Linked DNA regions of Homo sapiens: region 2 is reported to be linked to region 1. Evidence: microRNA targets listed by miRTarBase, many of them from high-throughput screens and not tested one by one. Region 1 holds a microRNA gene; the other region holds the end of a gene's coding sequence.

Region 1 (4,388 bases):
CACCCGCTTTCCCCTGTCCTTGGCAGGGGCTGCACCCAGGGGCATGCCGGCACTTCCCAGTGGCCCTAGGTGTGGCCCCAGCCCACCCAGGAAAAAGCCCTTAGCTTGGAGAGGAGGGTGGGGCCCTGCTCCCCACCCCACTCACCTCCTCCTCTCCACAGTGGACCCCCTGGCCCAGGTGACTCAGCTATTCCGGGAACATCTCTTAGAGCGAGCACTGAACTGTGTGACCCAGCCCAACCCCAGCCCTGGGTCAGCTGATGGGGACAAGTAAGTGTCGTTGTGCCCTCCTCCAGGCAAGGCCCCTCCGGCGGGATTCTGAGAATAGCTCTGGCCTCAACCCTGTGGAGAGAGCCCAGAGCTGGGCTACCGTGCGTGCCATGCACGCTTCATTCCTCTCTGAGTTTCCTCTCCCCACCAGCCTGTGGGAGGAGACAGTGGCACTTTGCAGAGCCAGGGGCCAGGCTGTACTCTGGAGGGCAGGTGGGGAGCACCCTCCTAGGACCCCTGCCATCTGTTCCGACAGCCAGCTCTCTCCTTCCACAGGGAATTCTCGGATGCCCTCGGGTACCTGCAGCTGCTGAACAGCTGTTCTGATGCTGCGGGGGCTCCTGCCTACAGCTTCTCCATCAGTTCCAGCATGGCCACCACCACCGGTGAGTCCCCGGCCCCTGTCCTGGCTCCCTTCTCAGCTCCCCCGTGCAGCGTGACTGAGGGTTCAGGGGACCCTCCCTCTTCTGCAGGCGTAGACCCGGTGGCCAAGTGGTGGGCCTCTCTGACAGCTGTGGTGATCCACTGGCTGCGGCGGGATGAGGAGGCGGCTGAGCGGCTGTGCCCGCTGGTGGAGCACCTGCCCCGGGTGCTGCAGGAGTCTGAGTGAGTGCACGGCAGGTTCCTCCTGCCTGGTCCCGGGCTCAGCCTTCCTCATCCCCTGGGCACTGTGCCTCACTCAGCCTTTGTTCTGTGCAGGAGGAGTCACCACCTTTTTTCCTCAGGGAACTCGAGCCAGGGAAGTGGGGGGCACTCAGCCAGGGCTTGTGGACTGGTCTGACTGGCACTCTTCTGCCCTGGTCCCAACAGGAGACCCCTGCCCAGGGCAGCTCTGCACTCCTTCAAGGCTGCCCGGGCCCTGCTGGGCTGTGCCAAGGCAGAGTCTGGTCCAGCCAGCCTGACCATCTGTGAGAAGGCCAGTGGGTACCTGCAGGACAGCCTGGCTACCACACCAGCCAGCAGCTCCATTGACAAGGTGAGGGGTGGGGTCAGGGGCCTGGCAGGGCTGGGGGATTCAGCTTTCCATTCCCTGGTTCCTCTCCCCAGCCCCCAGGGGCTGCAGAAGACCATGGGGTTAGCCCAAGCAGCACAGGATAGGGGGTCCAGCAGACCCTGCTTTTTGGCTAAGGCTTCTGTCCAGAGGAGAGGGGTTGCCCCTATCTGGCCTCAGTTTCCCCATCCCTGGGAGGAGGGGGGTGGATGGTGTGGTAGGATCCCTTTGGAGGCCCTGCATCAGGAGGGCTGGACAGCTGCTCCCGGGCCGGTGGCGGGTGTGGGGGCCGAGAGAGGCGGGCGGCCCCGCGGTGCATTGCTGTTGCATTGCACGTGTGTGAGGCGGGTGCAGTGCCTCGGCAGTGCAGCCCGGAGCCGGCCCCTGGCACCACGGGCCCCCATCCTGCCCCTCCCAGAGCTGGAGCCCTGGTGACCCCTGCCCTGCCTGCCACCCCCAGGCCGTGCAGCTGTTCCTGTGTGACCTGCTTCTTGTGGTGCGCACCAGCCTGTGGCGGCAGCAGCAGCCCCCGGCCCCGGCCCCAGCAGCCCAGGGCACCAGCAGCAGGCCCCAGGCTTCCGCCCTTGAGCTGCGTGGCTTCCAACGGGACCTGAGCAGCCTGAGGCGGCTGGCACAGAGCTTCCGGCCCGCCATGCGGAGGGTGAGTGCCCGATGGCCCTGTCCTCAAGACGGGGAGTCAGGCAGTGGTGGAGATGGAGAGCCCTGAGCCTCCACTCTCCTGGCCCCCAGGTGTTCCTACATGAGGCCACGGCCCGGCTGATGGCGGGGGCCAGCCCCACACGGACACACCAGCTCCTCGACCGCAGTCTGAGGCGGCGGGCAGGCCCCGGTGGCAAAGGAGGTGAGGGGGCAGCTGCTGACCAGGGATGTGCTGTCTGCTCAGCAGGGAAGGGCGCACATGGGATGTGATACCAAGGGAGGCTGTGTGTGTGTCAGACGGGACAGACAGGCCTGGCGCAGTGGCTCACACCTAGCACTTTGGGAGGCTCAGTTGGGAGGACAGCTTGAGCCCAGGAGTTGGAGGCCGCAGTGAGCCTGAGTGACAGGGAGAGTCCCTGTCTCAAAAAAAAAAAAAGACCAAGCATCTTCTTGATGGTTACCTGATGACAATTCCTTTCACAAGGAATCAGTGGGGTGACTGTCATTTGTGGGATACATGACTGCACGTGCGTGACTCAGTCTGTGGACTTTGTGTGTGGGCTGAGACTAGGGTGGGGAGAGGGGAACCCGCCAGGCCCCCGCCAGGTACCTGTGTGCCAGGTACAGGCGGCTGGTGCCGTGGCTTGTGTGTGGGCAGGGCTCCCGCGGGGGCGTGGCCAGCTTGAGACCCATCCCTGACACATCCTCGTGTGCGCAGGCGCGGTGGCGGAGCTGGAGCCGCGGCCCACGCGGCGGGAGCACGCGGAGGCCTTGCTGCTGGCCTCCTGCTACCTGCCCCCCGGCTTCCTGTCGGCGCCCGGGCAGCGCGTGGGCATGCTGGCTGAGGCGGCGCGCACACTCGAGAAGCTTGGCGATCGCCGGCTGCTGCACGACTGTCAGCAGATGCTCATGCGCCTGGGCGGTGGGACCACTGTCACTTCCAGCTAGACCCCGTGTCCCCGGCCTCAGCACCCCTGTCTCTAGCCACTTTGGTCCCGTGCAGCTTCTGTCCTGCGTCGAAGCTTTGAAGGCCGAAGGCAGTGCAAGAGACTCTGGCCTCCACAGTTCGACCTGCGGCTGCTGTGTGCCTTCGCGGTGGAAGGCCCGAGGGGCGCGATCTTGACCCTAAGACCGGCGGCCATGATGGTGCTGACCTCTGGTGGCCGATCGGGGCACTGCAGGGGCCGAGCCATTTTGGGGGGCCCCCCTCCTTGCTCTGCAGGCACCTTAGTGGCTTTTTTCCTCCTGTGTACAGGGAAGAGAGGGGTACATTTCCCTGTGCTGACGGAAGCCAACTTGGCTTTCCCGGACTGCAAGCAGGGCTCTGCCCCAGAGGCCTCTCTCTCCGTCGTGGGAGAGAGACGTGTACATAGTGTAGGTCAGCGTGCTTAGCCTCCTGACCTGAGGCTCCTGTGCTACTTTGCCTTTTGCAAACTTTATTTTCATAGATTGAGAAGTTTTGTACAGAGAATTAAAAATGAAATTATTTATAATCTGGGTTTTGTGTCTTCAGCTGATGGATGTGCTGACTAGTGAGAGTGCTTGGGCCCTCCCCCAGCACCTAGGGAAAGGCTTCCCCTCCCCCTCCGGCCACAAGGTACACAACTTTTAACTTAGCTCTTCCCGATGTTTGTTTGTTAGTGGGAGGAGTGGGGAGGGCTGGCTGTATGGCCTCCAGCCTACCTGTTCCCCCTGCTCCCAGGGCACATGGTTGGGCTGTGTCAACCCTTAGGGCCTCCATGGGGTCAGTTGTCCCTTCTCACCTCCCAGCTCTGTCCCCATCAGGTCCCTGGGTGGCACGGGAGGATGGACTGACTTCCAGGACCTGTTGTGTGACAGGAGCTACAGCTTGGGTCTCCCTGCAAGAAGTCTGGCACGTCTCACCTCCCCCATCCCGGCCCCTGGTCATCTCACAGCAAAGAAGCCTCCTCCCTCCCGACCTGCCGCCACACTGGAGAGGGGGCACAGGGGCGGGGGAGGTTTCCTGTTCTGTGAAAGGCCGACTCCCTGACTCCATTCATGCCCCCCCCCCCAGCCCCTCCCTTCATTCCCATTCCCCAACCTAAAGCCTGGCCCGGCTCCCAGCTGAATCTGGTCGGAATCCACGGGCTGCAGATTTTCCAAAACAATCGTTGTATCTTTATTGACTTTTTTTTTTTTTTTTTTCTGAATGCAATGACTGTTTTTTACTCTTAAGGAAAATAAACATCTTTTAGAAACAGCTCGATACACACAATCTTCAGTGTGAAGCAATATACTAATAAGAACACTAGTCGTCTTAACATTTACAGTCTTCATATATATTATATATATGTATATGTATACATATATATACACTATATAACGAGGCCAGATATAATACACACGTTTACCATTTTACAGTCATATGTACAGGAAGTTGCTAGGGCGGCCCTGGGCTGGGGGCTGCGTCAGGCCTATCGAAGCGTGGACAGAGCTGAGGACACGG
Region 2 (4,352 bases), not on the chromosome of region 1:
GAAACAAATTTCTCCTTCTAAGAAGCTAAATGAAGAAAATTTGAGTAACAACGGTGATAGTAAAAACCGAAAGTTTTAGCTTTTTAAAAATCCTAGATTTATTCATAATTAGCAACTTAAGTGTCAAGTTGACCTTGAACTTGGTAGAATCATTCTGACTCTGCTAGTAGTTTTTAGAGTTAAAAGGCTCCTATCTAGGAGACTCTTCGTGGCTTTCATTTCTTATTCATCAATCTTCCGGATCTCTTTCCAATGTTACTTCAAAGACGACTAGTGCATTAGTTACTTCCCTTACAAACTTTGTAGGTGCTAGCCTGAAGTAAAAATTCTGTAGTTTGGAGCTACAGCTTGTTCTTCATGTTTCTTCTAAGATTGTCTCTGTAGAATTAAATGTCAAAATCTGAAAGGCGAGCTCAGGGCAGTTGATTGAAGGAGTATGATATGTAAAACACACTTTATGTACATGTGTGCCAAGATGTGTGCAAGGGGTGCAACAAAATGACTTGTGAGTGTCTCCCTCCTTGATCTGTTTTGACCAAACTTTATTACTCATTTAATGGAACTGTAACAAAGAGCAGGAATCAAAACACATGGGGATCACAGAGGCTGTTATGTTTATTGTGCAGAACAGACAGTGATAATACACTAGAGAAATATTTTCAACAAGCAAGCGATTCAAAGTACAATCATAGACAGCAATTCTACATAAAGAACAAAGAATAAAGTTAGAAGACACTCAAAGGAACAGGGAGAAAGTCAACTGCAGTTAAACGTCTTGATACTTTTCTCCTGCAAACATACCTAACTTGCAGAAATGGTAGAAAAGTTAAATGTCCAGTCTTATGTAGCTGCGACCAACAACAGCAAAGAACAGTCCTATAAAATTTATCTCCCACAAAAATAAACTATATATATAAAAATTTTATGATGTTCTTACTGTTCCATTGGCCACAAGCTTTTTTTTTCAGTATGAAAAATGAGGTATACTGGGACTTAAGAGGTAGTAGTGTGTTTTGATTGTACAACATACAGGAAATAAAAGTGTAACTTTACCAGAGATGGAAATCACTCGGTGCACCATGTTTGGCCAACATGAGCAATTGCTTCCATTTTATGAGCTGGCCAATGAGGTTTCTAAAAGGCCCATCCAAAGATATGGAATGCGACTTTTATTTTTATGAGCCACTGTTTATTTGCTTATTTAACGCACAGTTAACAGTAATGTTGAGTTTTAATTCTCTCCATAGCTCCTTTGGTGATTCACAACAGTGAGCGATCTGCCAGTCTCAGAGAGGTATGTGGCCTTTGAAACTACCTCCCTGAAGCAGCTGGAAGAGAGATGGTTTTGAGTTTCATTTGGCTTCAGTACTAAAAGCCATACTGACAAAAGCCGTCATGAGAAACTACCTCCTGGCCCAGTTGATAATACCATGTTAAAAAGTCAGCACACTCACTAGGAGAGAAAGGCATAAAAACTCTACATAAGAAGCGTTTAAAATAAATCTGGTTGAGACATATTACAAAAATCACATTTGTGTAAAATACATGAAAATATTTGTCAAGCATTTTCTTATATTCAACTAATCTTAAAAACACATATTTTTGATTGCATTATGCAAAAGCAGGGCTTGTTGCATCTCACCTACAAAGCTTCAAGTTTCTTTGAAGGTTGGCTTTTATTTTATTTATTATTTACTTATTTTGCAAAAGTATGTAAAAACGTGTTCCTTTCTATCAAATGTCTTTTACAAAAATAGTTTTGACTAGGGTTAGCTGCAGTTTGAACTATTTCAAACATTGAAAAAACAAATGAATGCTGCAAGTAACAAGTTCATTCCTTTTGAAGTCTGGAGGTAGGTCTTTGCAAGTCAATTAGTCCATCTCCTTAAAGAATTCATTTGAGGTACAGACTTGGAGGGTAATATTTAAATATTACAGTCAAATCTTGTGTGATGTGTAGTGTGATTGAGGAAAATTATCCTTAAGAACCTAGGAGCGACTTGGTTAAAAAATTTTCAAGTTAATGTAGAAATCTAGCAGAGAAGCTGAAACAAGTATTTTAAAAATTTTTAATTAAAAAAACATAGAAAAATACATAGTCATGCTGAAACACAGTAAGGAGATTGCTTCTTTAACTGTAATTAAGTGTACAAAAAGAACTGCAGATGATTAGAATCACCTACCCAGTAAGTTTTTTTCTTGCATTGCTTGTGTATAGCAGCATGTAATAAGTACTAGACTGTAAATTCGTTGTAACATTCAGAGGTAGTATTGAGTAGTGGGGATATATTGCATCTCTGGCTAAAAGTGCAGTTTGAATGAAGAGATGGTGAACTCAAGCCGAAGAAAAGCACCTTGGTCAACCATCTTATGTCAAAACGTATTACTTGAAGTAACACATATGCTTAATTTGAGGTAAGTGGTATTCAGGTCTTTCATGGAAACTGATACACAATGAAAAGAGAGAGGGAGAGGAAGAGAGAGAGAGAAAGACACAGAGAGAGATTGCCCCCCCCTTTTTTTTTTTTGCTTTTTAAATTGATGTATAACTATAGCAAAAGAAATTTAGATTTCGCTCCTCCCACCTCATAATTAGGTGAGTTCATCATGCATTATTCTGTTGTACCTTTTCATTAAATTACAAAGAGGATAATTTTACTTGTCTAGTTTCCTTAAATGCTCTGAGGCTGACAAGTGTTATTTATTGCTAAATGGCATTTTGGCTCTGTAGGAAGTAGATTTCCTGAAAATGAAGTGTTGTCCTGAAAACAAGTGCTGTGAGTAAATTTATTACTCCTGCTGATATGTGTGATATCCATAAATAGAAGAGTTGGCAATATTTGTTTGCTTACTTCCCTTTTTGAAAAATGAACATAACCTTTTCTAGTTTGTTAGCTGAATGAAAGGATACATCAGCATTTCGTCTCATTTAGAAATAAAAAGTTAAAAATCATCAAGTAAGTGTCTACAAGATTATACGAAAAAGAGAAAGTAGTATCTAGTCCTTATCTTTGGTGTTCTAAACAGAGGATTCACTACAGGGAGTGGGTTGGGGTGGTATTTGAGGTGTACACAGTGTTACACACCGCGTTCTTCCTATATGAATGCCCGACGTCACAAGTGTGACACGTTTCTTGTTTGCATGCAGTGCAGTGATTGACTAAACCCAATTCGGTTTTTCTCACCCGCCCACTCTTGCTTATCAGATCAACAAACTATTAGTAGGTTAAGAAAAAAGAAAACAGTAATTAAAAGTTGCATTGTTAAGCTGTGTCCCCTGTGTTTACAGCAGTTTTTCACTAAACCTGGGACTGTGAAGGGATTACAAAGAAGGTGATTAATATAGTCCTTTTTAAGGTTATGTGATTTCTCCCCACCCCACCCCCCCCTCCCCCACCCCACCCCACCCCACCCCAGATGAAAGTGGAAAGACCATGGCAATACAGAATAAGTGGTCACTGCAGTGTCTTCTCCCTTCAAAAGATCCAACTGCTGCTGAGGTAGAAATCGAACGTTGGCGCCCCCTAGTCCTCTTCGGCAGACTCTTGTGAGGATGTCTCTTCAGTTTCCTCCTGGAACACACAAAGGGCACAGCCATGACGCTCAATCGTTATACTGTGTGGGCTGCTCTTGCCAACAGTGCAGAGGTAACCTGTTTCCACAGCACATTATGCTTGCCTCAAAAGAGGATGACGATGACTGGCGAGCCCTCATTCCCAGGGCTTCTTAAACCGTAATTGAGGAATCAAGGTGTTGTTTTTTCCCAGAGCGGTCATTAGCCACTGTTGACTTAAGGCTTGACATCATGGCGGCTGGTCAGCAAATTCAATTGTTTGCTGTCCAGAGAATGTCAGGGCAATGCACGCTTACTCACCAATTAGAAAAAAAGTAGGAATGGATAAATTTTTCCCGACAGCATGCCATTCATCAGTTTTAAAAACCGGCACACAAGAAAAATAGAGTTAGGGGGATCCTTTCTTAAGGTATAAATGAACCCACCCTCCAGATACTGGTAATAATAGCTGGTATTTTTAGAGTGCTTACCAGATGCTTAGGCACCTTCTGTTAATATTCCTGTTTTACATCTGAGAAAACCAAGGCACAGACAAGTAATGTGCCCAAAATTACAGGGTGTGTGGGACCAGGATTTGGGTCGGGTTGGTACTGGTGCCAACACCTGTGTGTGACCCCTACACCACTGTGCAGAGGCAGTGTGAGAGCAGGGGCAGAGCTGACAACGAGCCTTCCCAAATCCATTTCCTCCCCCTTGTATTTATTAAAGCACATTTTGAGACAGTGACCCAAGTTCGGCGTTAACTGCTCAATCTCAATACTAATCCGCATCGACCAAA

Evidence for each region. Region 1 holds the annotated microRNA hsa-miR-33b-3p (CAGUGCCUCGGCAGUGCAGCCC, at 1,613-1,634, shown strand). A microRNA usually pairs through its seed, bases 2 to 8, with sites in the 3' UTR of a target mRNA and lowers its output. Matches are read on the target gene's strand: a 7mer-m8 pairs with bases 2 to 8, a 7mer-A1 pairs with bases 2 to 7 and ends in A, and an 8mer does both.
Region 2: miRTarBase lists HMGA2 as a target of hsa-miR-33b-3p. The part of its 3' UTR that is shown has no 7-base or 8-base seed match.

Annotation. Positions count from the first base shown.
Region 1 is chr17:17,811,103-17,815,490 of GRCh38, reverse strand. It overlaps MIR33B (microRNA 33b), which reads left to right and starts at 1,560; the gene lies at 1,560-1,655. It overlaps RAI1 (retinoic acid induced 1), which reads right to left. Exons shown (of 6, transcript NM_030665.4): 6 at 4,038-4,388. SREBF1 (sterol regulatory element binding transcription factor 1) reads left to right here. Exons shown (of 19, transcript NM_004176.5): 13 at 162-270; 14 at 547-656; 15 at 744-876; 16 at 1,081-1,246; 17 at 1,722-1,922; 18 at 2,012-2,123; 19 at 2,640-4,157. The coding sequence ends at 2,869. It overlaps MIR6777 (microRNA 6777), which reads left to right and starts at 1,946; the gene lies at 1,946-2,011. RefSeq lists an enhancer at 2,176-2,734.
Region 2 is chr12:65,962,465-65,966,816 of GRCh38, reverse strand. HMGA2 (high mobility group AT-hook 2) reads right to left here. Exons shown (of 5, transcript NM_003483.6): 5 at 526-3,572. The coding sequence ends at 3,525. Among named protein-coding and RNA genes, the nearest start is that of HMGA2-AS2, 16 kb to the right of the region's middle.